Regions from separate parts of the Homo sapiens genome. Here regions 2, 3, 4 and 5 are each linked to region 1. Evidence: fine-mapped QTL for protein levels in blood plasma. A gene starts in region 1. Each other region holds a variant in brackets. All regions are shown on one strand. Distances are from middle to middle.

Region 1 (5,000 bases):
TCCCTTCCTTCAGCAGGGTCTGGAGGGAAGGATAAGAATAATAATGCCATCTACCCATCAGGGGTGTCCAATCTTTTGGCTTTCCTGGGCCACATTGGAAGAAGAATTGTCTTAGGCCACACATACTAACACTAATGATAGCTGATGAGCTAAAAAATTACAAAAAAGTCTCATAATGTTTTAAGAAAGTTTATGAATTTGTGGTGGGCCACATTCAAAGCCATCCTGGGCTGCATGCAGCCCATGGGCCGCAGGTTGGACAAGCTTGCCTTACTTATATAGTGCTCACTATGTATTGGTCACTCTTCTGGGCATTTATAGGTATTTATTTATTTAATTCTCACAATACCCTATGACATGCATGCTACTATTATCCTGATTGTATAGATAAGGCAACTGAGGCACAGAGAGGTTAACTAACTTACTCAAGATCAATCAACTAGCAAGTGGCTGAGACATAATTTGAACCCAGGTAGTCTGGCCCTAGAATCTTTACCCTGCATCATATTTCAAGAGTCCAAACCCATGAACCTCTGCCCTCCCATGTCTTCTTCTCTTCTGGATGAGCCTGTGGTCAGAGTGTAACCCAAGTTTCCCTCAATGGGCAAAGGCTAGCACAGGAATTTGGACCTGACCTGATGGAAGGTGGCTCCATCCAACAGGACCCCATCTCGGAACCACAGCAATTCAGGGGTAGGGCGGGCATCCCCACGGCTCCGACATGTCAGGTTCGCAGGAACTCCAGCAACCAGAGACACAGAGGGGCCGCCCAGCACCTGGGGGGCTTCTGGGGGGACTGCAAGGTGGATTTGGGGTCAGAGATGGATCCTGATCTTCTCAGCTCCAATTGACCATGCCCCTGGGCTCCCTGGGCTCTGCTACTCACAGCTAGTACGGGCTGCCCTCTTGGGCTCCCAGGGGACAAGTGGGCGAGGTCCTTACCCAGCACGTGCAGTTGGGCTGGTCTGGAGCGGAGGCCTGCTTGTGTAGCCTGACATTCATATGATGCTTCATCCTCTAGCTCCACGGGCCTAATGTGGAGGTCATGCTGGCCATTGGCTGCATTCCCTGATATCCAGTACCGGGACCACCCTGGAGTCAGGGAGAAGGCAGTCAGCACACCATGGTTCTGAAATCCTGGCCTCAGGCCTCCATCCCCAGACATCCTCCACCAGAAAACTGGCCCACACATTTGGTGGTAAGACACTATTAAAAAGTGTGTACTGGGCCCAGAGAGACTCTAACTCCCTCCCAACCCAGAGTCACTGCAAACTTAGGGGTAATAAAGTCAGGAAGGAAAGCAAGAAAATGATTGCCATAAAAATTAGGTTAGATACTACTTCTGGAGTGAGGGGGAGGGGGCTATGATAGGGGAAAGGAACACGGGGTCTTCTGGGGAGCTAGCAATGGACTTGGGTATTGGCTGTGTGTGTCTATTTTATTTGGTAAATCTTCCATTTATATTTACTGTACTTTTTTGCATTTATGTTCTCTTTTTTTTTTTTTTTTGAGACAGGGTCTCACCATTGCCTGAAGTGCAGTGGCTTGATCATGGCTCACTGCAGCCTTGAACTCCTAGGCTCAAGCAATCCTACCACCTAAGCCTCCTGAGTAACTGGGACTATAGATGCACACCACCATACCCGGCTAATTTGTTTAAAATATATATATACATTTGTGTAGAGATAAGGTCTTGTTATGTTGCCCAGGCTGGTCTCAAACTCCTGGTTTCAAGCGATCCTCTGGCCTCAACCTCCCAAAGCGTTGGGATTACAGGCGTGAGCCACTGCACCTGGCCTATGTACTATTTTGCAATAACATAATAATTCCCAAACTCCGTGGGTCACCCCCAAAGAAGCAGCTCAAAAATCAGGACTCCTAAATGTTTACCCGAGCCCATCAATTTCCCAAACTTGAAAATGTCAAAATAGAAACTGCAGGTACAGCCGAGCCCAGCAACTCTCCCCCTAGCCAGCCCGTCCCAGCGTGGAGAGAACACTCTTACCTGGTAGGTCCCTTTGGCCCCCTAGGGCCAGCCCACTCTTAGTCCACTGAACTAGCCCCCAGTAGGCGCCCAGAGCACACGGCAGCCGGGCTTCCTCCCCCAGCAGCACCACCAGGTCCTCTGGCTGTTGCAGGAAATGGGGCGACGGGCCTAGGAGAGTTCGGGGCAGCAGGGCTGAGCTTAGCACCTTCAGGGGCCTCCTCATTCAGGACCCAGGAGTCCCAGCCCCCAGCTCCCTTCTCGCTAGTGAAGAGGCAGCCCGCAAGCAACTCCCCACCCCCACCCCATATTCCTCCGCTCCCCTCGTGCGGTACCTGCTCTCCCTCTGAAGCAGAAGAGGAGGACGAGGAGGGCGGGGACCCGCATCCTGAGCATTCGTCCCCCAAGGTTCACGAGATTTGCCGTCGCACTGGCCTTCCCGTCAACTTCTTCCTCTCAAGCACGCCTCCTGTCACCCTGGCCCGGAGCCCCCTTCACGCTCGACTCTTCGCCCAGCCTAGTCTCTGGCCTGGAGTCCTCCAAGTCTGCTCATCCGCAGCCTCTGACGCTCTGAAACGCCTGCCAGTTCCGCGGCCTGGGTCTCTGGGAGACCCCAAGAGGGCCCGATCCCGCTCGCCCCGCCCGGGTCCGCCCCCCGGGAGCTCCGCCCTCTTCCCGTTGAGAAACTCCCGCGGCTGAGACGCGGATGAATGGGGGACGCAGGGCGGGATCCCCCGGCGGGTGGGCGCCCCCAGCTCAATTGGGGTCTGGGAGCCGGAACACCTGGGTTCGAGGAGGGAGGGGGTCCCGGCTGGGTTGGACACCTGCGCCCTGCCGGGGTTGAGGGGCAGGCAAGGGGTGAGGAGGAGGGAAGGGAGAGAGTGGAAGAAACTTGCTCAGCCCAGGTCCTAGAGGGACTGCGCTCAGTGGAAACTGAGCTATAAATGGGAGCTCCTGGGGCCTCGCCAGTTTCCGCGCCCTGGGGGATGCGGGGTCCGGGGCTCCCCCGGGCCTGCGTGTCGGGAAGAGGGCACACCGATACCTGGGGGACAGTTGGGACCCCTACCTCGACTCCCCCAGCCTCAAAACCCCTCCTCAAAATATCCCTCTGTTCCCTTGTTATTGCTGCAAACTACAGCACGTCCTAAGACCCAGGAATCCAGGCCCTCGGCCCCTCCTTTCCCAGGACCCCGCAGTCCCAGCCCAACCCCTCTCCCCACTCGGCCGGCCGGGCCCCTCGGCCTGGTTGCCCGGCGACGGCTGGGAGGCGGCGGTGCCGGGCCGGGGCAGGCAGGGAGGCTGGGAACCGCGCAGCTTGTCCTGACGGCTCCATGCAGCCCAGCTGGGGCGTTCCCACGCTGCGCAGCTGGCCGAGCAGGTGGGAGGGACCCCGAGCAGCCTGAAGGAGGGCTGGGGGGCTGGGACCCTGATCTGACATTCCTGGACCTGTAAGAACTGGAGGGTCCACATTCAGATTCTCCACTGTTCTTAGGCTCAGACTCCGTGTCCCTAAATGGGGGAGTGGGGTTGGGAGTGGGGGTTGGACTTACAGGGTTATAAGGGACTGGTGGTTCAGGCCTTTGCTGGCTGAGACGCTGATGGCCTGATCTCCCGGTTCCTTGAGAGGCTGGAGACTCAAGGTGCACTCAAGTGCATGGTGCACTTGGAAGAGGGTGACAGGGGTCAGAATATCTGGTCTTAAGTCTTAAGAGTCGGTGGATCTATCTGCCAATCTCTCCCCACCCCCACACAGGCCCAGGAGGATTTGGAAATCAGACCGTGAACATCTGTCCTAAGTCCTGTGTGTATGTGTGTGTGTGTGTGTGTGTGTGTGTGTGTGTGTGTGTGTGTGTGTGTGTATGGGGAGGTGCGGGGGTGGGTAGTGTGGCCAGGAGGATCAGAGGCCCAAATTCCCGAGTCCTTGGAGAGAAGGGACTGAGACCCCAGGGTCTGAGAGGGGAGGGATCTGGGGGCCTACACTCCCGGCTTCTGTGTGGCTTATCTAGTGCCTGGATTTTGAAATAGGATGGACATGGGGCTGGAACTCCTGAGTCTTAGGGAGGAACTCAAGTCATGGGGCTGTTTTTCCAGGCACTTGACGCCGCTTCCCCTTCCTGGCTCTCTGGGGCTACGGACATGGAAAGATGGAGAGCCCAAGGTCCCAGGAGCATGCAGAGAAGGAAAACAGCCAAGGTGGAGGGTGGAAGGTTTGTGCTTATTAAAGGCCCCAGCAAGGGACAGCTCCACGCTCTGGCACCTAGGGACACCATCTGGCGAGGGCCCCCAGGACAGAGCCACTCCCCCAGCTCGGCATCCAGCCCATTTCCCAGGGGGTGTAGAGAGCAGTTGGGAGAGGGGAGGTGGGAGGAGGGCAAGGAGTCAAGCATGTGAGGGAAGATGGAAGTCCAGCATCGAGGATGAAGCTGGGGGCTGAGGCCAGATGCCTCATCTTGTTCCTGGGAACGATATTGGCGGGGGTCTTGGGGAGGTAGGGAGAAAACTAGCATTTCCAATTCCCGCAGGAGATAAGCAGGCAGAAGAAGCTTATCCCAGGCAAGTGTATGTGCACGCGGGGAGGGCAGGCCCACCAGCATATGGTTATAAAATCCAGGGATGTGATGAGCAGAGCCACTCGGAGATGGAGAGACACATAAGAGAAAGAGGCGTGGTCAGAGTGTGGCTGAGAACAAATATTTATGGAGCTCCTGGTGTGTGTGAGACAGACTGTGGGGTGAGGGGAGCGACAGAGGTGAGAACAGAGACAGAGAAACAGAATAACAGAGACATATAGAGATGGAGAGACACAGTGAAATAAAGATTGACTGAGATTTAACAACTTAATATAGAGAGCGAGAGAGTCTCAAACAGATGGAGAAAGATAGAAAGATAAATCAGCTGGGCACAATGACTCACGCCTGCAATCCCAGCACTTTGGGAGGCCGAGTCAGGCTGATCACCTGAGGTCAGGAGTTCGAGACCAGCCTGATCAACATGGAGAAACCCCGTCTTTACTAAA
Region 2 (5,000 bases), 20 kb after region 1:
ACTATCTGAATGTGATTAATGACCAAGGGAAATTAGAAAATAGTTTGAATTAAATGAAAATGAAAACATATAAAAATTTGAGGTTGCAGTTAAAGCAGTACTTAGAGGGAAATTTATAGCATTAAGTGCTTATTTTAGTTTTTTATTTTATTTAATTATTTAATTTTTTTTTATTTTTTTGAGATGGAGTTTCACTCTTGTTGCCCAGGCTGGAGTGCAATGGTGTGATCTTGGCTCACTGCAACCTTCATCTCCTGGGTTCAAGCAATTCTCTTGACTCAGTCTTCTGAGTAACTGGGATTACAGGCATGTGCCACCACCCCCAGCTAATTTTGTATTCTTAATAGAGACGGGGTTTCACCATGTTGGTCAGGCTGGTCTCGAACACCTGACCTTGTGATCCACTCACCTTGGCCTCCCAAAGTGCTAGAATCATAGGCCTGAGCCACCATGCGCGGCCTTATTTTTTATTTTTGAGATGGAGTCTCACTCTGCCACCCAGGCTGGAGTGCAGTGGCATGATCTTGGCTCACTACAACCTCCGCCTCCCGGGTTCAAGCGATTCTCCTGCCTCAGCCTCCTAAGTAGCTGGGATTACAGGCAAGTGCCACCATGCCCAGCTAATTTTAGTATTTTTAGTAGAGACGGGGTTTCGCCATGTTGGCCAGGCTGGTCTTGAACTCCTGACCTCAGGTGATCCACCTGCCTTGGCCTCCCAAAATGCTGAGATTACAGGTGTGAGCCACCACGCTTGGCCACTTTTTGTTTGTTTGTTTTTGTTCTGAGACGCAGTTTTGTTCTTGTTGCCCAGGGTGGAGTGCAATGGTGCCGTCTCGGCTCACTGCAACCCCCGCCTCCTGGGTTTGAGCAATTTTCCTGCCTCAGCCTCCCAAGTAGCTGGGATTACAGGCATGCACCTGTAATTTTTTGTATTTTTTAGTAGAGACAGGGTTTCACCATGTTGTCCAGGCTGATCTCGAACTCCTGACCTCAGGTGATCCACCAGCTTCGGTCTCCCAAAG[T/C]GTTGGGATTACAGGTGTGAGCCACCACGACTGGACTAGTTTTCGTTTTTTTTTTTTTTTTTTTTTTAAGAGAATAACCTCAAATGCATATTCTAAGTTTTCATCTTAAGAAACTGTGGCTCATGCCTGTAATCCCAGCACTTTGAGAGGCCAAGGCGGGTGTATTACTTGAGGTCGGGAGTTTGAGACCAGCCTGACCAACATGGAAAAACCCTGTCTCTACTGAAAATACAAAATTAGCCGGGTGTGGTGGCACATGCCTGTAATCCCAGTTACTTGGGAGGCTGAGGCAAGAGAATCACTTGAACCTGGGAGGCAGAGGTTGCAGTGAGCAGAGATGGTGCCATTGTACTCCAGCCTGGGCAACAAGAGCAAAACTCCATCTAAAGAAAGAAAGAGAGAGAGAGAGAGAGAGAGAAAGAAAGAAGCTAATAAAAGACGAACAAATTAAACCCAAAGTAAACAGAAAGAAGAAAATAATAATGGTAAGAGCAGAAATGAATGAATTAGAAAACAGAAAAACAATTGAGAAAATCAATGAAACCAGAAGCTGGTTATTTGAAAAAAATCAATAACATTTATAAATCTGATTAAGACAAATAAAAGGGAGAAAATACAAGTTACCAATAACAGGAATGGAAGAAGGGATGTTACCACAGACTCCACAGACATTAAGAGGATAATTAGGGAATATTATGGATAACTTTATTCCAATAAATTCAGCAAGTTGGATGAGAAGGACAAATTCCTTGAATATGATGAATATGTTACAATTCTGATAGGCACAGTATTGTAGTGGTAAATCCTTCAGAGCCTGGTCCAGAGAAGCTTGGGTTCAAATCCCCTCTCTGCTACCTCTTAGTTGTGTGACCATAGGCAAGTGTCTCAGTTTCTAAAAATATATAGCACAGATCTTTGTGGCTCAGTTTATTTTTCTTTCTTTCTTTCTTTCTTTCTTTCTTTCTTTCTTTCTTTCTTTTCTTTTCTTTTCTTTCTTTTTTTTTTTTTTTGCAATGGAATCTTGCTCTGTCACTCAGGCTGGAGTACAGTGGCATGATCTCGGCTCACTGCAACCTCTGCCTCCCAGGTTCAAGCAATTCTCCTGCCTTAGCCTTCCAAGTAGCTGGGATTACAGGTGCATACCACCACGCCTGGCTAATTTTTGTATTTTTTAGTAGAGACAGGGTTTCACCATGTTGGCCAGGCTGGTCTCAAAGTCCTAACCTCAGGTGATCCACCTGCCTCAGTCTCTCAAAGTGCTGGGATTACAGACGTGTGCCACCACTCCTGGCCGCAAGCTTCTCCTTTCTGTTTTCCTCTTCCTGACAGAGCAGGCTTTTTCTCAATGGAAGTAAGGACACTTTTTCACCCCTACAATCTTCTCTGCTCTTCCCCCCACCCCACTCCAGTCTTCCCTTTGAACACTAAAACATAAAGTATGACACTTGCCTCCTTTGCTTTAGAACTTGTACCTTTATTAAGGGATCGAGAGCCCAAAGTCTTTTTTGGTTAACTCAACAAATTGATAATTCGGGTGAAAAGGACCTTGCACACCGAAAGTGCTCATCAACAGTTAATTTTTGGGCCAGGCATGGTGATGCATGCCTGTAGTCCCAGCTAATCAGGAGTCTGAGGCGGGAGGATAGCTTGAACCCAGGAGGTCGAGGCTGCAGTGAGCTATGATCATACCACTGCACTCCAGCCTGAGCGACAGAGTGAGACCCTGTCTCTTTAAAAAAAAAAAAATGGCCAGGCGCAGTGGCTCACGCCTGTAATCCCAGCACTCTGGAAGGCCGAGGTGGGCGAATCACGAGGTCAGGAGTTCGAGACTAGCCTGGCCAACATGGTGAAACCCCATCTCTACTAAAAATACAAAAAATTAGCCAGGCATAGTGGCAGGTGCCTGTAGTCCCAGCTACTTGGGAGGCTGAGGCAGGAGAATTGCTTGAACCCGGGAGGCAGAGGTTTCAGTGAGCTGAGATTGCGCCACTGCACTCCAGCCTGGGCAATAGAGAGAGGTTCAGTCTCAAAAAACAAATTATTCTTAGCATTAGCGTTACCATTAGAATTGCTATTAATAGTATTGTCATTATTATCAGCAATTTCTAGCTCTCTTTGAAATATTCTTAAGCAGTCATATACCAGTTCCCATGAATCTAATAGGCTTAAGAAGAGGCTGAGAAATATTTAAAGCTTATCTCAGATTCTTAGTGTTAAGTCACAATCTGTATATCCACCCCCCAGGTCTCCACCAGCCTTCTGGAGAACCTGAAGACCAGCTGCCCACAGAGCCACCTTCAGGCAAGTCCTCAGTCCCCTGATCCCTCCCGGCTCCCCTGAGAATGGAACCTCCTGGTCTCTGACCCTACCTCCTCTGCTTGTAGTCACAGCTGCTTAACGACTTAGTTCTGGCCAAGCTCAGTCGCTCACGCCTGTAATCCCAACACTTTGGGAGGCCAAGGCATGTGATCACTTGAGCCCAGGAGTTTGAGACCAGCTTGGGCAACATAGCAAGACTCCATCTTTGCAAAAATAAAAAATAGCTGGGTGTAGTGGCATGTGCCTGTAGTCCCAACTACTCAGAAGGCTGAGGTGGGAGGATTGCATAAGCCCAGGAGTTGGAGGATGCAGTGAGCTATGACTGAGCCACTGCACTCCAGCCTTGGCAACAGAGGGAGACCCTATCTCAAAAAAAAAAAAAAAAAAAAAAAAGACTTAGTTCTGTCCCTGCAGAATTGCAGACTTGCAGACTCCTTAGAGCTTCCTCTTTTTTCTTTCTTTCTTTCTTTTTTTTTTTTTTTTTTTTGAGACAGAGTCTCATTCTGTTGCCCAGGCTGGAGTGAAGTGGCAAAATCTTGGCTCACTGCAACCTCCACCTCCCAGGTTCAAGCGATTCTTTTGCCTTAGCCTCCCGAGTTGCTGGGATTACAGGCACCTGCCACCACACCTGGCTAATTGTTGTACTTTTTTAGTAGGGACGGGGTTTCACCATGTTGGCCAGGCTGGTCTCGAACTCCCGACCTCAAGTGATCTGCCTGCCTCAGCTTCCCAAAGTGCTGGGATAACAGGCATGAGCTACGGCACTCGGCATTTTTTTTTTTTATTTTTTTATTTTTTGAGATGGATTCTTGCTCTGTTTGTTGCCCAGGCTGGAGTGCAGTGGTGCGATCTCGGCTGACTGCTATCTCCACCTCCCGGCTTCCTCTCCTGCCTCAGCCTCCCGAGTAGCTGGGACTACAGGCACGTGCCAACACGCCCAGCTAATTTTTTGTATTTTTAGTAGAGATGAGGTTTCACCGCGTTAGCCAGGATGGTCTTTAACTCCTGACCTCATGATTCACCCACCTCAGCCTCCCAAAGTGCTGGGATTACAGGCGTGAGCCACTGCATCTGGCCAATTTTTTTTTTCTTAGATCTTCCTCTTGCCTGGAGTGATAAATTTTCTTCTCTTCCAAATTTAGTTTAATTCCGTAAGAATTAGCTCACTCCATGTCCTGTAAGAAGCCTGCATCAGTTAGCTTTTGCTGTATAATGAACCACCCCAAACATGGGTGCTTATAGCAACATTCTTCCTCATGATTCTGAGTCTGGCGGAACAGTGCTGGTCTGGGCTGGCTTAAATCATCTCTGCAGTCAGCTGGCAGCTCCACTGGACTGGGTGGTCTAGGGTTGCCCCCTTCCCACACTTCTGATAGTCATCTGGCTCTTGGTTGGAACAATGGAGATAACTGGGCGCGTGTCTCTTCTTGACTTTTTCACATGGAGGTGGTCACGGGGGTCAAAAGCAGCAATTTACTAGCTGATTCCGTCATAGTTGTGTCTCATTGGCCAAAGCAAGTCACATGGCTCAACACAGAGTCAGTGTGGAAAGGCCCCGCACTCAAGGATGTGACTACTGGGAGATGATTGCAACCATTTGGCAAAAAAATCCCCTTCAGAGCCCGAGAAAAAGGTTGCAAGTGACAGAAATGCAGCTGT
Region 3 (5,171 bases), 120 kb before region 1:
AGGCCAGACAGATTCCCTCAACGAGCACTTCAACCTAGAGGCAAAAAGAGATGGGGGGAGTGGAGGATGGTGACCCAAAAAGGGTAAGTCAGGGTGGGGCCAGGAATCCTTGAGGCACATGGAGGAGACGTGGATATAGAGACTCCAAGTTGGGGAGAATCTGTTAAATCCACGAACAAATATTCAGATGCCAGCTATGCCATGTTTTAGGCATGTGACATCGGGCACATTCCTTAACCATCCATGCCTTGGTTTCCTTCATCCATAAAATGTAAATGGGAGGATTGATTGAGGGAGAACAGGGCTTAGAACTGAGAGAGTACTCAGTAAAGGTCAGCCGTTCTTTTTTTTTTTTTTTTTTTTTTTTTTTGAGATGGAGTCTCGCTCTGTCACCCAGACTGGAGTGCAGTGGTGCAATCTCAGCTCACTGCAAGCTCCGCCTCTGGGTTCATGCCATTCTTCTGCCTCAGCCTCCCAAGTAGCTGGAACTACAGGCACCCGCCACCACTCCCGGCTAATTTTTTGTATTTTTAGTAGAGACGGGGTTTCACCGTGGTCTCGATCTCCTGACCTCATGATCCACCCGCCTCTGCCTCCCAAAGTGCTGGGATTACAAGTGTGAGCCACCATGCCCGGCCTCCGGCTAATTTTTGTCTTTCTAGTAGGGACGGGTTTTTGCCCCGTCTAGTAGGGACGGGGTTTTGTCCAGGCTGGTCTCAAACTCCTGGCCCCCTGTGATCCACCCGCCTTTGCCTCCCAAAGTGCTGGGATCACAGTGTGAGCCACTGTGCCTGGCCCTTTTTTTTTTTGAGACAGGGTCTCACTTTGTCACCCAGGCTGGAGTGCAGTACTGCCATAATAACTCACTGCAGCCTCCAAATCCTGGGCTCCAGTGATCCTCCCTACTCAGCCTCCAGAGCTGTGGTTGGGACCACAGGCACATGCCACCACACCTGGCTAATTGTTTAACTTTTTTTGCAGAGACAGGGTCTTGCCATGTTGCCCAGGCTGGTCTTGAACTCCTGGGTTCAAGCAATTCCCAAAGTGTTGGGATTACAGGTGTGAGCCACTGCACCTGGCCAGATTTTGCATTTTCAATAAGCTCTGGGTGTTGCTAATGCTGCTGGGGGGCTTTAAGAACTGCTGTCTTCAGGTAGCCCCTGATGTAGGTTGTGTGCCCTGTAAGTGTTAGCTAAGAAAGAAAATCAAATCTGTCTTCCCCACAAGAATATGTGCAGTACTCAGCTGAGCGCGGTGGCTCACGCCTGTAATCCCAGCACTTTGGGAAGCTGAGGCAGGCAGATCACCTGAGGTCAGGAGTTTGAGACCAGCCTGGCCACCATGGTGAAACCCCATCTCTACTAAAAATACAAAAATTAACCGGACGTGGTGGTGAGTGCCTGTAGTCCCAGCTACTCGGGAGGCTGAGGCTGGAGAATCGCTTGAACCCAGGAGGTGGAGGTTGCAGCGAGCCGAGATTGCGTCACTGCACTCCAGCCTGGGTGACAGAGCAAGAATGTCTCAAAAAAAAAAAAAAAAAAAAAGGTATGTGCAGGACTCTATCCTGTTGGTGCTCTATCTCCAGCCTATGCCCAGCACTTAGTAGGTCCTCAATCCGTACCTGTGGAGTCACTACAGACCAGACCCAGGTCTCTTGCAGGCCCTGCCTCATGCTGGCTCTGTCCGCTCTTGGGTGGAGACTCACAGCAGAGGCCCAGGCCCTCCAGGACAGCACACTGGTACCAGCCATCAGCTCACAGGCAGGCATGGGGCACTTTGTGGTTCCAGGGATGTGGTCCACTTCGGCCACGCAGGCCTGGAAGAAGGACTGTCTGGTGACAGGTGTGTGTGACAGGGTGCCAGTGGGTCCCTGGCTAGGCAAGAGGCTACAGGCACTGGACCACATCGTGTCTGTGCCAGGGTCCTCGGTGGCTGCCGGACAGACTGACCTTGGGCAAGTATGCGGCGGGGCGCAGGGCTCGGGCCTCGGCAGCTGCCAAGTCATCCACCTGCTGTCTTACCTTTGCAGTTGCCATGGAGGCCACGGGGAATCAGAGGTCGGAGGCGGTGTGCCAGGACTGGTGCGGGAAGAGTGGAGGGGGATCAGATGCATGTGAGAAGGAACATGGGGGTGAGGTATGAAGAAACACGGGACTGTGGGGGAGGGGAGAGCCGAGGCGAGGGGGTTGTAGGCAACACTCAGGATGGGCATTGTGGAGTACGACCAGCACCACGGCAGGAAGTCAGGGGAGGGGCGTGGAGACCAAGGGAGGAGGAGAGAGAGTAGTAGGGTGGGCAGGGCGGTGTGGGGAGAAACAGGGATTAGCATTAGGGACAAGGGAGGGATCTAGAGCCAGGGAGGAGTCTGGAGAGACTAAGAGGACGAGGGGCTATTCTGAGAGGAAGGGTTGGTGGTGAGGGAGGGGCAGGCAGGGAAGGGGTTTGGGGAGGAGCCAATGGCAGCTGTTGGGGAGAGGGGTCACTTCCAGATCTAAGAGGAGGAGAAAGAAC[G/A]GGGAGATGAAGACTTGGGGCAGGAGAGAGTGGTGGGGCGTGCTGGCGTGGTGAAGTGAGGGAGGAGGGGAGTGGGGGAGACACAGTGAGACTGGGCTGCATGGAGCAGGAGGTGCGGCCAGCAGGGGACTGGCTTTAATCAGAGCAGGGCTGGCACTTTAGGATGGGTTAAGGTCCAATGTGGACCATGAGGGCCAGGCACGGCAGCTCATGCCTGTAATCCCAGCACTTTGGGAGGCCAGTGGATGAGCTGTGGCCAGGAGTTTGAGACCAACCTGGCCAATGTGGTGAAACCCCATCTCTACTAAAAATATAAAACTTAGCTGGGTGTCGTGGTGCACACCTGTAATCCCAGCTACTCAGGAGGCTGAAGCAGGAGAATTGCTTGATCCCAGTAGGCGGAGGTTGCAGTGCCATTGCACTCCGGTCTGGGCAACAGAGTAACACTCCATCAAGAAAAAAAGAAAGAAAGAAAGAAATAAGGAAAGGGAAAGGGAAGGAGAGCGATACAGAAGTGCAGATGGGAGAAGGGAGGAGAAGAGTGGAAATTAGGGTGTTGGCAAGGGGAAGGGAAGGAAGGCATCAGAGAGCCATACACAGAGATCCTGTCCACCGGAACAGAGATGCAAAGTTGCTAAAATGAGGTAAATGACAGGACAAGGGTTCTCTTGACTGTCCCTGGTTACCGAGGTCCACACCAAAGTAGTGGCCATGCACACATAGCAGCAGCACATGGCAGAGGCCGGACAGTCCCAGGTCTCTCTCCAGCACCACCTCGAAGGGCTGCACACCCCACAGGCAGCCCAAAACCGTGCAGACACCCAGGAGCCCAAATGTGGTGCTCCCAAAGGGGCGGTCATGGAGTTGCCTGAGGCTGTGCAGAGGCCTGGGGCCTCCTAGGGGATGTGGCAGGGTTTGCAAGCCACCAACCTTGGCAGGCAGCAGCACCAGATGGCGGGCAAGTGGCTGCCGTGGGCCCACCCTCCATGCAGGGGGCGCTAGGATCTGTCATCTGGTGCCCTGCAGGGGTGGGGCTGGAGAGCTCAGCTTAGACAGAACTGAAGCTGGAACCTCAGATCAGTAAAGCCCAGGTGGCTAACTGTGGTTCACAGGCAGTGATGGGTCTCTGGGATGGGTGACGGCTTCGGGGCTGGGCCGTGATCAGGTTCTGAGTCCCTGAAGAGATAAGGGCTGAAGTGCTGGGCCATAATCAGGGCTGAGATTGGGGAAGCATATGAGGTGGGGGCTGGCTTTAATCAGAGTAGGGCTGACACTTTAGGATGGGCAATGGTTGAGGTCAAGTCTGGACAATGAGTGGGGAGGGGGTGAGGCCGGCATCACGGGAAGTACAAGGTCTCAGGGATTAAATGGGGCAGTGAGGGTCTGCCATCCTGGGATAGGCAACAGCTGAGGAGCTGAACTCCAGTCGGGAGTGGAGCCAGGCTCCCCAGATGAACAAACCCGGATGAGCATGCGGCAGGGTCCAGCACCCAGACACATCTCCACCACTCAGTGTTGGAAATAGGGACCTGGTGCCAGCAACTCATGACACAGCTGGAGGGGCCCCAGGGCATCCAGGAGGATGCCATAGATGTGAACAAAGTGGGCCAGGGTGCTAGTGGTTGGCAGGGTGGCACAGGATGGTGGTCATGATGGCATCTTGCCAGAGGCATTTGGACACCCAGACAGCCCACCAAGCAGCCACAGGCCCAAGCCAATATGTCCTCAGGCAGCTTGGTGCTTGCCTCAACTCTGGGCATCCAGGTACCCCCCAGTGTAGTCAGCACCTAACCCCGCCCCTATTGCTGCTGGTAGCATCAGTGTTGCATGGATCCCGGGGTGTAGGTCCCACACAGGCCAAAGGGGCAGCTGGCCATGGTGTCCCAGCCCTGGCAGAAGATGAGTGCACTGTTGCCTGGAGCCTGTAAGTGCAGATTCTTGCAGTCACCATTCACCTGCGGGGAGAGGGCAGGTCAAGCTAGAGCTTGGGGGCCCAGTGTCAGTACCAAGGATGCCTGGACCCCTGCTTTTAGCAGGGGTTCTGGGGGGCCAGTTGAGGGGCTGGGGGTCTGTCCACAAACCTAGAAATGCTTGGACTGCTGTTCATGATCCTGACCACCCTTTTCAACAAATCTTGAGAGGTAAGAATTATGGATTCTGGAGGTTGGGACTATAGTTTTCCTCAATTAGAATTGATATAGTTTATGTGCAGAATAGGCTGGGTGCAGTAGGTGATGCTTTAATCTCAGCAACTTGGGAGGCCAAGGCGGGCCAATTGCTTGAATCCTGGAGTTCGAGGCCAGCCTGGACAACACAGTAAGACCCTGTCTTTCCAAAAAATGAACATACATATTGACTTGCACCTGTAGTCCCAGCTACTAGAGAGGCTACAGGGGCAAGAGGTGAGAGGATTGCTTAAGTCCAAGTGGTTGAGGCTACAGTGAGCCGCGGTCCCACCACTGCATTCTAGCCTGGGCAAGAGTGAGACTGTCTCAAATACATACATACACACACACACACACACATACACACACACACACACACACACACGTGTATAAAATAGAACAGTTCTCAGCTCATAGTTGGTGCTCAATAAATATTTGTCGAACTAATGCATGAATGAATAAATGAATGAGGTTCATAGGTGATGCTGGTCTATA
Region 4 (5,171 bases), 30 kb before region 1:
CTTTCCCTTCACTGAAGTTCTGCTTCCTGACCCTTTCTCAGTGTACGAACCCAGGCCTTGACCTTCTTCCCACATCTTTATTTTTATTTGTTTGTTTGTTTATTTATTTATTTTGAGGCAGCGTCTTGCTCTGTTGCCTAGGCTGGAGTGCAGTGGCATGATCATAGCTCACTGCAGCCTCGAGCTCCTGGGCTCAAGGGATCCTCCCACCTCAGCCTCTCCAGTAGCTGGTACTACAGGCAGTCACCACCACACCCAGCTAATTTTGTTTTTTTTTTTTTTTAAGAGATGGGGTCACACTATGTTGTCCAGGTTGATCTCAAACTCCTGGCCTCAATTGATCCTCCCGCCTTGGCCTCCCAAAGTGTTGGGATCACAGGAACCATCACTCCCGGCCTCCTTCCCAAATCTTTTTTTTTTTTTTGGAGGCGGAGTCTTGCTTTGTCACCCAGGCTGGAGTGCAGTGGTGCAATTTTAGCTCACCGCAAGCTCCACCTCCCAGGTTCAAGTGATTCTCCCACCTCAGCCTCCCAAGCTGGGACTAAAGGCACACGTGCCACCATGCCCGGCTAATTTTTGTATCTCTGGTAGAGGCGGGGTTTCGCCATGTTGGCTGGGCTGGTCTTGAACTCCTGACCTCAGGTGATTTGCCCACCTTAGCCCCACAAAGTGCTGGGATTACAGGCGTGAGCCACTGCACCTGGCTCTTCCAAAATCTTGACTCTGGACCTCTGATCTTCAAATCCAAAGGGACCCACTCAACCTCTCTTCTCTAGCCCCTCCCTCTGCATGGCGTGCCTTCCCCACCTCTCCTTCCAACCTGACAGACTTCTCTCCCTCCTTTGCCTTGTCTACAGCTCCGGCAGCTGTTGAAGAGGAGCCGTGTGGCGCCGCCAGGCCTGTCCTCTTAGGACTCAAACCCAGACCCTGGACTGATTTTCCAGTCCCCACCGTCCTGCGGGACAGCCAGCGTATGCTAATGTTGCAAACCCATGATAATGTATGTGGAATATCCTGCCATTGGGGTTTTACATTAAAACCCCAGAATGGCTGCAGAGGGGTGAACAGGCCCCAATATTTGGGGTGCTGTGATACCCCTCTTCTACCCACAAGGAGCCCTCTTGATGATTTCTGTGAAATCGAGGCCCCTTGATTGTTTCTGTGAAACACCCTGCACCCCTAGTCCTTTCCCCACTGAGATCTTTCGGGTTCTCTCCCCTAACTCAGCTCTTCGTTCCCAGAAACCCAGATGTAATCCCCCTACGTGGTGCTTGGGGCATCCCGATACCATCTCAGTAAATCTCCTACAATGGCCTCCTCACCCTCCCCGGGACCCACACCCTTCAGGTCCTCACCCTGAGACAGGAGGGACCCTCTGAGATCAGGGACCCTTAGGTCTCACTGCTCTCTGATTCAGAGCTCAGCTGGGCCCCCAGTTCCAGACCCCAGCATTCCCGGTCACTCCCTCCCTAATCTGAGCATCACTCAAGCTCTTTATTAAACTCAATTTGGGCCAGATTTGGTGGCTCATGCCTGTAATCCTAACACTCTGGGAGGCCGAGGCGGGCGGATCACTTGAGGTGAGGAGTTTGAGACCAGCCTGGCCAACATGGTGAAACCCTGTCTCCACTAAAAATACAAAAACAATTGGCTGGACATGGTGGCATGCGCCTGTAGTCCCAGCTACTTGGGAGGCTGAGGCAGAAGAATTGATTGAACCCAGGAGGCGGAGGTTGCAGTGAGCCGAGATTGTGCCACTGCACTCCAGCCTAGGTGACAAAGAGAGACTCTGTCTCAAAAAAAAAAAAAAAAAAAAATTTAAACTCAATTTGGACTAGAACCACTGTTGTCTGATCTCTGGGGGCACTGGTGCAGGGGAGTGGCTGTGATGCCCGCTGAGGGGTCATATTGGGATGAATGTGCCTGAGGGGGGAGGATGTAGCAGCCACCATGGGTGCCAAGTCCATATCCTGTCACCCTCACCCTGGCGACACAAGAGGGACTGGCCTTTAGGAGGCCAAGGTGTGAGGATCACTTGAGGCCAGGAGTTTGAGACCAGCCTGGGTGTCAGCCCCAGAATATTTGCCTTTGGGCAATCTCAAACCACTGGTGCGGCTCTGCCCCAGGTATGAGCATGGCAAGTGTTGAAAGCCAGGGGGTTCGTGTCCACTTCCCACTCCAGCAGCCCTCAGCCAGTTACTGATAGGAGATAGTCCCCCACCTGTCTGTTGGGCTAACTTGGAAGTGCATGGCCTATGCGGGCTCCAGAGTTCCCCAGCAGATGAATCCCCAGTTCCCCACAGTGGTCTGGGCTTGATAAAATACCCTTTATTGGCTGCTCTTTCTTCTCTGTGTCTCTTCCTGTCTCCCCTACCAATGTTCTCCATCCCTTCCAA[A/G]TGAACTTTCCCTCCAATCCTTCCCTCCATAGCTGCTTTTGGAGAAACCCAAACTAAGAATTCCACAAAACCCCATTCTCAGCCAGGCGCAGTGACTCACACTTAAAATTGCAGCACTTTGTGAGGCCGAGGCGAGCAGATCACCTGAGGTCAGGAGTTTGAGACCAGCCTGGCCAACATGGCAAAAACCCATCTCTACTAAAAATACAAAAATTAGCCAGGCGTGGTGGCGTGCGCCTGTAATCCCAGCTACTCAGAAGGCTGAAGCATGAGACTCGCTTGAACCTGGGAGGCAGAGGTTGCAGTGAGCTGAGATTGCGCCACTGCACTCCAACCTGGGCGACAGAGCAAGACTCTGTCTCAAAAAAAGATACAAAAAAACCCCCAAGGCTGGGCGCAGTGGCTTATGCCTATAATCCCTGCACTTTGGGAGGCGGAGGCGGGTGGACTACCTGAGGTCGGGAGTTTGAGACCAGCCTGGCCAACATGATGAAACCTTGTCTCTACTAAAAATACAAAAAAATTGGCCAGGCGCAGTGACTCACACCTGTAATCCCAGCATTTTGGGAGGCCGAGGCGGGCGGATCATGCGGTCAGGAGATTGAGACCATCCTGGCTAACACGGTGAAACCCTATCTCTACTAAAAATACAAACCAAAAAAAAAAAAAATTAGCTAGGCATGGTGGCGGGCACCTGTTTTCCCACCTACTTGGGAGGCTAAAGCAGGAAAATTCCTTAAATCCAGGAGGCGGAACTTCCATTAACCTAAAATCCCACCACTTTTCTCCACCCTGGGCAACAAAACAAAATTCCGTCTCAAAAAAAAAAAAAAACCCAAACCCCATTCTCATACCCGCTCCACAGCCTCTGCTCTGGCCTCTGCAATATAATCACACAAAGAGCCCCCATCCCAGAAAGCCCTTGGACCCATCACAGCCCCCATAGCTAGGAACCTTTCATGGACCACAGACCGAATGTACATGTTAGCACATTCCGGGGCTCCAGCCAATGTCTCCACCCCAAAACTTAAGGCTTAAACCAACACCCTTTTAATTATTTCTTTTCTTTTTTCTTTTTTGAGAAGGAGTCTCAGTCTCACCAGATTGGAGTGCAGTGGCGCGATCTCTGCTCACTGCAACCTCCGCCTTCCAGGTTCAAGCGACTCTCCTGCCTCTGCCTCCCAAGTAGCTGGGATTACAGGCACCCACCACCACGTCTAGCTAATTTTTGTATTTGTTTAGTAGAGATTGGGGTTCCAGCATGTTGGCCAGGCTTGTCTCGAACTCCTGACCTCAAGTGATCCACCCACCTCGGCCTACCAAAGTGCTGGGATTACAGGTGTGAGCTACCGCGCCCAGCCCCTCTTAATTGTTTCTGACTGAAATCTACGCCGGGTTCAGCTGGCTGTTCTGCTGTCTCCCTTTGGTTCCTCATGTGGCTGCAATCAACCTGAGGCCCAACTGGCCTGGAAATCCACAACACCTTCACTCACATGCCTGATAGCTCAGCTGAGATAATGGAGCTTCCAGGAGTGGCCCAAGAGTCTTTCCATGCAGTCCAGGAGGGCAGGTGGATCTCTTAACTTCAGGTGGTGGCTCAGTGGTTCCAAGAAAGAGAGATCCAAGGAGACAAGTCCCTGCTTGTATCATACTTGTTGACATGTCATTGATCCCAGATCAGTGTGGGAGGCATTACACAAGGGTCTCAATATTGGGAGACAGAGTTATCTGGGGACTGGGCGAGGTGCCTCACTCCTGTAATCCCAGCAATTTGGGAGGCCAAGGAGGGCGGATTACTTGAGGTCAGGAGTTGGAGACCAGCCTGGTCAACATGGTGAAACCCTGTCTCTACTAAAAATACAAAAATTAGCTGGGCATGGTGGCGGGTGCCTGTAGTCCCAGCTACTTTGGAGGCTGAGGCAGGAGGATCACTTGAGGCCAGGAGTTTGATGCCGCAGTGAACCATGATTGCAGCACTGCACTCCAGCGTGGGAGGCAGCAAGACACTGTCTCTAAAGTAAGTAAATAAATAATAATAATAAAATAAAAAATACAGAAGAACTTAATTGGGATCATCTTATAGTCAATTGTGTGACATAGTTTATATTTTGCCTTTTTTTTCCTTTTGTGGTACCTAAAATAATGCTATTTTTTATCACTGATGGCATCTGAGGTTTTGTTGACATATAAGATGTATATCTCAATTTGTATTGTTATGGAGTGCATGTTTGTGTCCCTCTAAAATTCATTTGTTGAAACCATAAGCCCCAGTGGGGTAGTATTTGAAGATGGGCCTTTGGGAGGTAGTTAGGTCATGAGGGTGGAGCCCTCATGAATGGGACTAATGTCCTTGTTAGAAGAGATGGGAGAGTCCGGGCGTGGTGGCTCATGCCTGTAATCCCAGCACTTTGGGAGGCCGAGGCGGGTGGATCATCTGAGGTCTGGAGTTCGAGACCAGCCTGACCAACATGGAGAAACCCCGTCTCTACTAAAAAATACATATTAGCCAGGCATGGTGGTGCATGCCTGTAATCCCAGCTACTCAGGAGGCTGAGGCAGGAGAATCACTTGAACCTGGGAGGTGGAGATTGCGGTGACCCGAGATCATGCCATTGCACTCCATCCTGGGCAACAAGAGTGAAACTCCATCTCAAAAAAAAAAAAAAAAGAAGGAGACAGGAGAGAGCTTGCTTCTCTGCTCTCTACTCTCTGCCATATGAAGATGCAGTAAGAGGATGGCCATCTTGGGCAGGGCACACTGGCTCACACCTGTAA
Region 5 (5,171 bases), 780 kb before region 1:
GAAAAAAAAAAAAGAAAATTGTCAAAACACAACCAATAGATAATGTTAACATGCATTCTAACATGCAATTTATTGGATTTAGCGAATAGAATGTGAGTGGAAGTTACTTTTGGTAGAACTGTTGGGAAAAGGGCTTGTGGAGTGCCTGCATAAACTGGCCATAAAAATATGGGACAATAAGTTGTGGAAAGCCACAAGAGGCCTCTGAGGAGGAAAGCCTCCTAATTGCCATCACGTTCCTATGACCAGAGTGTGACCTGCTCTCTTATCTATAAACACTGTGCTCAAGGAGAAAGACACTCCTTTGAAGCATTGGAATGTGGCCAGATATGCTGGCTTCTAGTTAGGCCCACTCCCCACAGCTGCTCTCTGATAAGTAAAAGAATAAATCAGTAGTTAAGTTTATGCTGCTTCAGCACAAAGAAAATGTACCTAAACTGCCATTGCCCCCCTTTCACTGTTTCACCCCTGAACATCTGCTTCTTAGATCTAAGTGATTGTACTCAATAAATAGTGTGGAGACCAGAGCTTGGCGCCTTTGCAGCTTTTGATTTGCTCTGGCCCCTTGGCTCCCACCTTTATGAACTCTTAACCTGTCTCTTCTCATTCCTTTGTCGCCACCGGACTTCAGGTACCCTACAGGTGGTGTTGAGGCTGGTCCCCAACAGAACTTTACATGTGCTTTCATATTATGACTTGGCTTTTGCCACTGGCCATGAGAAGGACATGCCACATGTAGCCATTTGCTCATCCATGAAAACCTTCCAAGAATAGTGGCAGTGCTTCACTTCCACCTTCTAAATCTCATGCAAATTTCACCAACATGGTGAAACTCCGTCTCTACTAAAAATACAAAAATTATCCAGGTGTGGTGGCAGGCCCCTATAATCCCAGCTACTCAGGAGGCTGACGCAGGAAAATCACTTGAACCCAGAGGGCGGAGGTTGCAGTGAGCCGAGATCGCGCCATTTCACTCCAGCCTGGGTGAAAGGGCGAAACTCTGTCTCAAAAAGTAAGGCCGGGTGTGGTGGCCCATGCCTGTAATCCCAGCACTTTGGGAGGCCGGGGCAGGTGGATCACCTGAGGTCAGGAGTTGGAGACCAGCCTGGCCAACATAGTGAAACCCCTCTCTACTAAAAATACAAAAATTGGCCTGGCGTCGTGGCACGCACCTGTAATCCCAGCTACTCAGGAGGCTGAGGCAGGAGAATCGCTTGAACCCAGGAGGCAGAGGTTGCAGTGAGCCGAGATCACGCCATTGCACTCCAGCCTGGGCAACAGAGCGAGACTTTGTCTCAAAAAAATGAATAAAAATAAAAAAATGACCACTATCAAAAAGACAAACAATAAGAGATCTTGGTGAGGGCAGAGAGAGGGGAACACTTTAGTACACTGCTGGTGGGAATGTAAATTAGTATAACCACTATAGAAAAAATTATAGAGTTTCCTCAAGAAACTAAACATAGATCAACCAAATAATCCAGAAATCTCACTACTGGGTACATATCCAAAAGGAAGGAAATCAGTATATCTAAGAGGTATCTGCACACCCAAGTTTACTGCAGCACTATTAACAACAGCCAAAATATGGAATCAACCTAAGTCTCCATCAATGCATAATGGATTTATACACAATGGAATACTATTCAGCCATAAACAGAATGAAATCCTACCATTTGCAGCAACATGGGTGGAAGTGGAGGTTAATTATGTTAAGGGAAATAAGCGAGGAACAGAAAGACAAACTTGGCATGTTCTCATGCATAAGTGGGAGCTAAAAGAGTTGATCTCATGGAGGTCAGAGTAGAATGATGGTTACCAGAGGTTCGGAAGTGAGTGGCTAGTGGTGAAGAGAGGTTGGTTAATGGATATAAAAATATGCTTAGATAGGGCCGAGTGCGGTGGCTTATGCCTGTAATCCCAGCACTTTGGGAGGCCGAGGTGGGTGGATCACGACGAGGTCAAGAGTCGAGACCATCCTGGCCAACATGGTGAAATCCCATCTCTACCAAAAATACAAAAATAAGCTGGGCGTGGTGGCTCACGCCTGTAGTCCCAGCTACTCAGGAGGCTGAAGCAGGAGAATTGCTTAAACCCAGGAAGCAAATGTTGCCGTGAGCCAAGATCGCACCACTGCACTCCAGTCTGACAACAGAGCGAG[A/G]CTGTCTCAAAAAAATATATATATGGTTAGATAGAAGGAATAAGTTCTAGTGTTTGATAGGATAGTAGGATGACTATAGTTAATAATTTATTGTATATTTCAAAATAGGTAGAATATTTGAAATGTTTCTAACACAAGGAAATGATAAATGTTTGAGGTGGATATCCTAATTACCCTGATTTATTACATATTGTATGCATGTATCAAAATATCACACATATCCCATAAATATGTACAATCATTATGCAGCAATAAAAACATACACTGTAATCCCAGCACTTTGGCAGGCTGAGGCGTGGGATCACTTGAGGTCAGGAGTTCAAGACCAGCCTGGCCAACATGGTGAAACCCCATTTCTACTAAAAATACAAAAATTAGCCGGGTATGGTGGTACATGCCTGTAATCCCAGCTACTTGGGAGGCTGAGGCTGACGAATTGGTTGAACCTGGGAGGCGGAGGCTGCAGTGAGCCGAGATTGTGCCACTGCACATATACAATCAGGGACCTTTAAATGGCACTGTGTTGGAATTAAGAATACCACTGAGAACCAAGGGATAGCAGAATTGGCCCCACTTAGTATTATTCCCAATGATTGCATATGCCCTGATGACTATGTATTGGCTGGTTTGTCAGCCACTGTTAGATGTGATGGAGACGCCCAACAGAGCACACACACTGAGTTCCATCTTCCATAGGTGTGCCACCCCCAGACATGAAGCCTGCCACTCCAATGGGGGGCTGATCATCTGGATGGAGTTTACAAATACGGGCTAACTGTAATGTGTTACTTGTGTTGTGAGTTGACCTGCGGAACAATGATGAGACCATGTGGCAAGGCCTGTGTGTGTGTAGGCTGACTACTACTGGATATGTAATTCAGAAGCCAGTCTAAAGATATCTTTGAAGACACAAATCAGGAGGTACTGCTGCTGATGAAGCAGAGCTAGGGATTTTTATTTATTTAAAAAAATTACAGACAGTACAATTCACTTTTTTGTATGTATACTTCTATTTTTTACACATGCATAGATTTTTTATCTATGACCACAAGCAGGATACAAAACAATTCCAACACCTCAAAGAATTGCCTCGTGCAACCCCTCTGTATTCAGACCCCACCCCACCCCAGACACTCAGCAACATTTGATCTGTTTTCTGTTGTTATATTTTCACCTTTTCCAGCATGTCATATAAATGGAATCATACAGTATGTAACTTTTTGGGACTGGGTTCTTTCCTTTAGCGTAATGCATTTGAGGTTCATCTATGTAGCTGCATGTTTCAGTAGCTCATTATTGTTATCGTTGAGTAGAATTCCATCTTGGGAATGTACCACAGTGTATCCATTTACACACTGAAGAACATTTGCTTGTCTCTAGTTTTTTTTTTAATTATAAATAATACTTACAAACACTCATGTACAGGTTTCTGTGTGCACATAATTTTTCATTTCTCTAGGATAAGTACTTATAAGTGGGATTGCTGGGTCATATTGGATGTGTAACTTTTTGAGACTGGCATATTGTTTTCCAGACCGGCTTTACCATTTTGCCTTTCCTATTAGCAATGTATGAAAGTTCCAGTAACAAATCCACACCTGTACTCCTGAATCTAAAACAAAAGTTAAAAAAGAAAGAGTTCCAGTTGTTCCACATTCTTGTCAGCACTTGGTATTGTCACATATCTAGGGTTTTGAAAAGTCCGATTATAGGCCGGGTGCGGTGGCTCACGCCTGTAATCCCAGCACTTTGGGAGGTCGAGGTGGGCGGATCATGAGGTCAGGAGATCGACACCACCCTGGCTAACACAGTAAAACCCCGTCTCTACTAAAAATACAAAAAATTAGCTGGGCATGGTGGCAGGTGCCTGTAGTCCCAGCTACTCAGGAGGCTGAGGCAGGACAATGGTGTGAACCCAGGAGGCGGAGCTTACAGTGAGCCAAGATCGAGCCACTGCCTCCAGCCTGGGCGACAGAGCGAGACACTGTCTCAAAAAAAAAAAAAAAGCCTGATTATAAACTGATAAATATCTAGAACATCCCAGGTGCATGTTGTAGACTAGTGTTGGAGCCTGTGCTTTTGCTGTTGCACATTACTTGTGAAGCAGGACATGGCAAGCCTGGCTCTATTGCTAGACCAGAAACTGAGTGGAGAAATTCAAGCATTAGCTGACAAGAAATGATCACATTTGAGATGTACTGTGCACTATCTGATACTGGGGACACAGAGGGTGAGGAGATATGCTTGTTCACATACATTATCAGGAAATACACAGCAGTTATAGGAACCATGTTTATAAGATGGAGCTGATTTACAGTCAGACTGCAAAGCTCTAAAATTATCTCCACGATGCCCAGATGTCTGGCTCTGACTCTTGGTTGGGATAAGGCCAGTGAGCTATACAAGGTACTAGTTAAAGTCTGATATTCCCTGGGAGACTCCCAGAGCCAATTTGTTTATGATGGCTTTTTAACTTTTTTAAACTTACATAACCAGTTAGATAGCCTGGCTTGACTATGTAACCAGTGAACAGAGAAGCATAAATACCCATGCAGTGGCTGGGCACGGTGGCTCATGCCTATAATCCCAGCACTTTGGGAAACCGAGGTGGGCGGAGGATTGCCTGAGGTCAGGACTTCGAGACCAGCCTGGCCAACATGGAGAAACCCTGTCTCTACTAAAAACACAAAAACTAGCTGGTTGTGGTGGCACATGCCTGTAATCCCAGATACTTAGGGAGGCTGTGGCAGGAGACTTGCTTGAACCTGGGAGGCGGAGGTTGCAGTGGGCTGAGATTGCACCATTGCACTCCAGCCTGGGTGACAGAGCAAGACTCTGTCTCAAAAAACAAAACAATGACAACAAAAAAACCCATGTAGAGAAGTTCTGCTGTCAGCTCTCCCCAAATCAAGTTTGATACAGGTCTTAGTGCTTCAGTTCAGAGACAGTGTGCGGTCTGTGTGTGAATAAAACCACTGAGGAATGTGCAGCTAGATGATTCTGAGCCCTA

Alleles and levels. Alleles are on the strand shown, and positions count from the first base shown. The strength of an association depends on the size of the effect and on how common the allele is.
For the plasma level of the protein whose gene starts at base 2,589 in region 1, allele T in region 2 goes with a higher level than allele C (weak association).
For the plasma level of the protein whose gene starts at base 2,589 in region 1, allele G in region 3 goes with a lower level than allele A (weak association).
For the plasma level of the protein whose gene starts at base 2,589 in region 1, allele A in region 4 goes with a higher level than allele G (weak association).
As copies of G replace A in region 5, the plasma level of the protein whose gene starts at base 2,589 in region 1 goes down (moderate association).

What was found. PIP is the posterior inclusion probability: the model's chance that the variant is causal. The UK Biobank Pharma Proteomics Project read protein levels with antibody pairs (Olink). The fine-mapping took linkage between variants from a reference panel, not from the people measured, so its PIPs are less certain.
Region 2: its variant is fine-mapped to the plasma level of the KIRREL2 protein (UK Biobank, PIP above 0.99).
Region 3: its variant is fine-mapped to the plasma level of the KIRREL2 protein (UK Biobank, PIP above 0.99).
Region 4: its variant is fine-mapped to the plasma level of the KIRREL2 protein (UK Biobank, PIP above 0.99).
Region 5: its variant is fine-mapped to the plasma level of the KIRREL2 protein (UK Biobank, PIP above 0.99).

The regions. Positions count from the first base shown.
Region 1 is chr19:35,854,500-35,859,499 of GRCh38, reverse strand. It overlaps KIRREL2 (kirre like nephrin family adhesion molecule 2), which reads right to left and starts at 2,589. Exons shown (of 15, transcript NM_199180.4): 1 at 2,320-2,589; 2 at 2,006-2,155; 3 at 943-1,092; 4 at 636-796; 5 at 1-19. The coding sequence starts at 2,380.
Region 2 is chr19:35,834,028-35,839,027 of GRCh38, reverse strand. It overlaps NPHS1 (NPHS1 adhesion molecule, nephrin), which reads left to right. Exons shown (of 29, transcript NM_004646.4): 23 at 3,267-3,323. Among named protein-coding and RNA genes, the nearest start is that of NPHS1, 16 kb to the left of the region's middle. The variant T/C (reference allele first, on the strand shown) is at 1,023.
Region 3 is chr19:35,975,936-35,981,106 of GRCh38, reverse strand. No RefSeq gene overlaps it. Among named protein-coding and RNA genes, the nearest start is that of SDHAF1, 17 kb to the left of the region's middle. RefSeq lists a silencer at 5,153-5,171. The variant G/A (reference allele first, on the strand shown) is at 2,512.
Region 4 is chr19:35,884,299-35,889,469 of GRCh38, reverse strand. It overlaps NFKBID (NFKB inhibitor delta), which reads left to right. Exons shown (of 12, transcript NM_139239.5): 12 at 858-1,518. The coding sequence ends at 911. Among named protein-coding and RNA genes, the nearest start is that of NFKBID, 14 kb to the left of the region's middle. The variant A/G (reference allele first, on the strand shown) is at 2,397.
Region 5 is chr19:36,632,039-36,637,209 of GRCh38, reverse strand. It overlaps ZNF382 (zinc finger protein 382), which reads right to left. Exons shown (of 5, transcript NM_032825.5): 5 at 3,096-5,171. ZNF461 (zinc finger protein 461) reads left to right here. Exons shown (of 6, transcript NM_153257.5): 6 at 1-592. Among named protein-coding and RNA genes, the nearest start is that of ZNF382, 29 kb to the right of the region's middle. The variant A/G (reference allele first, on the strand shown) is at 2,162.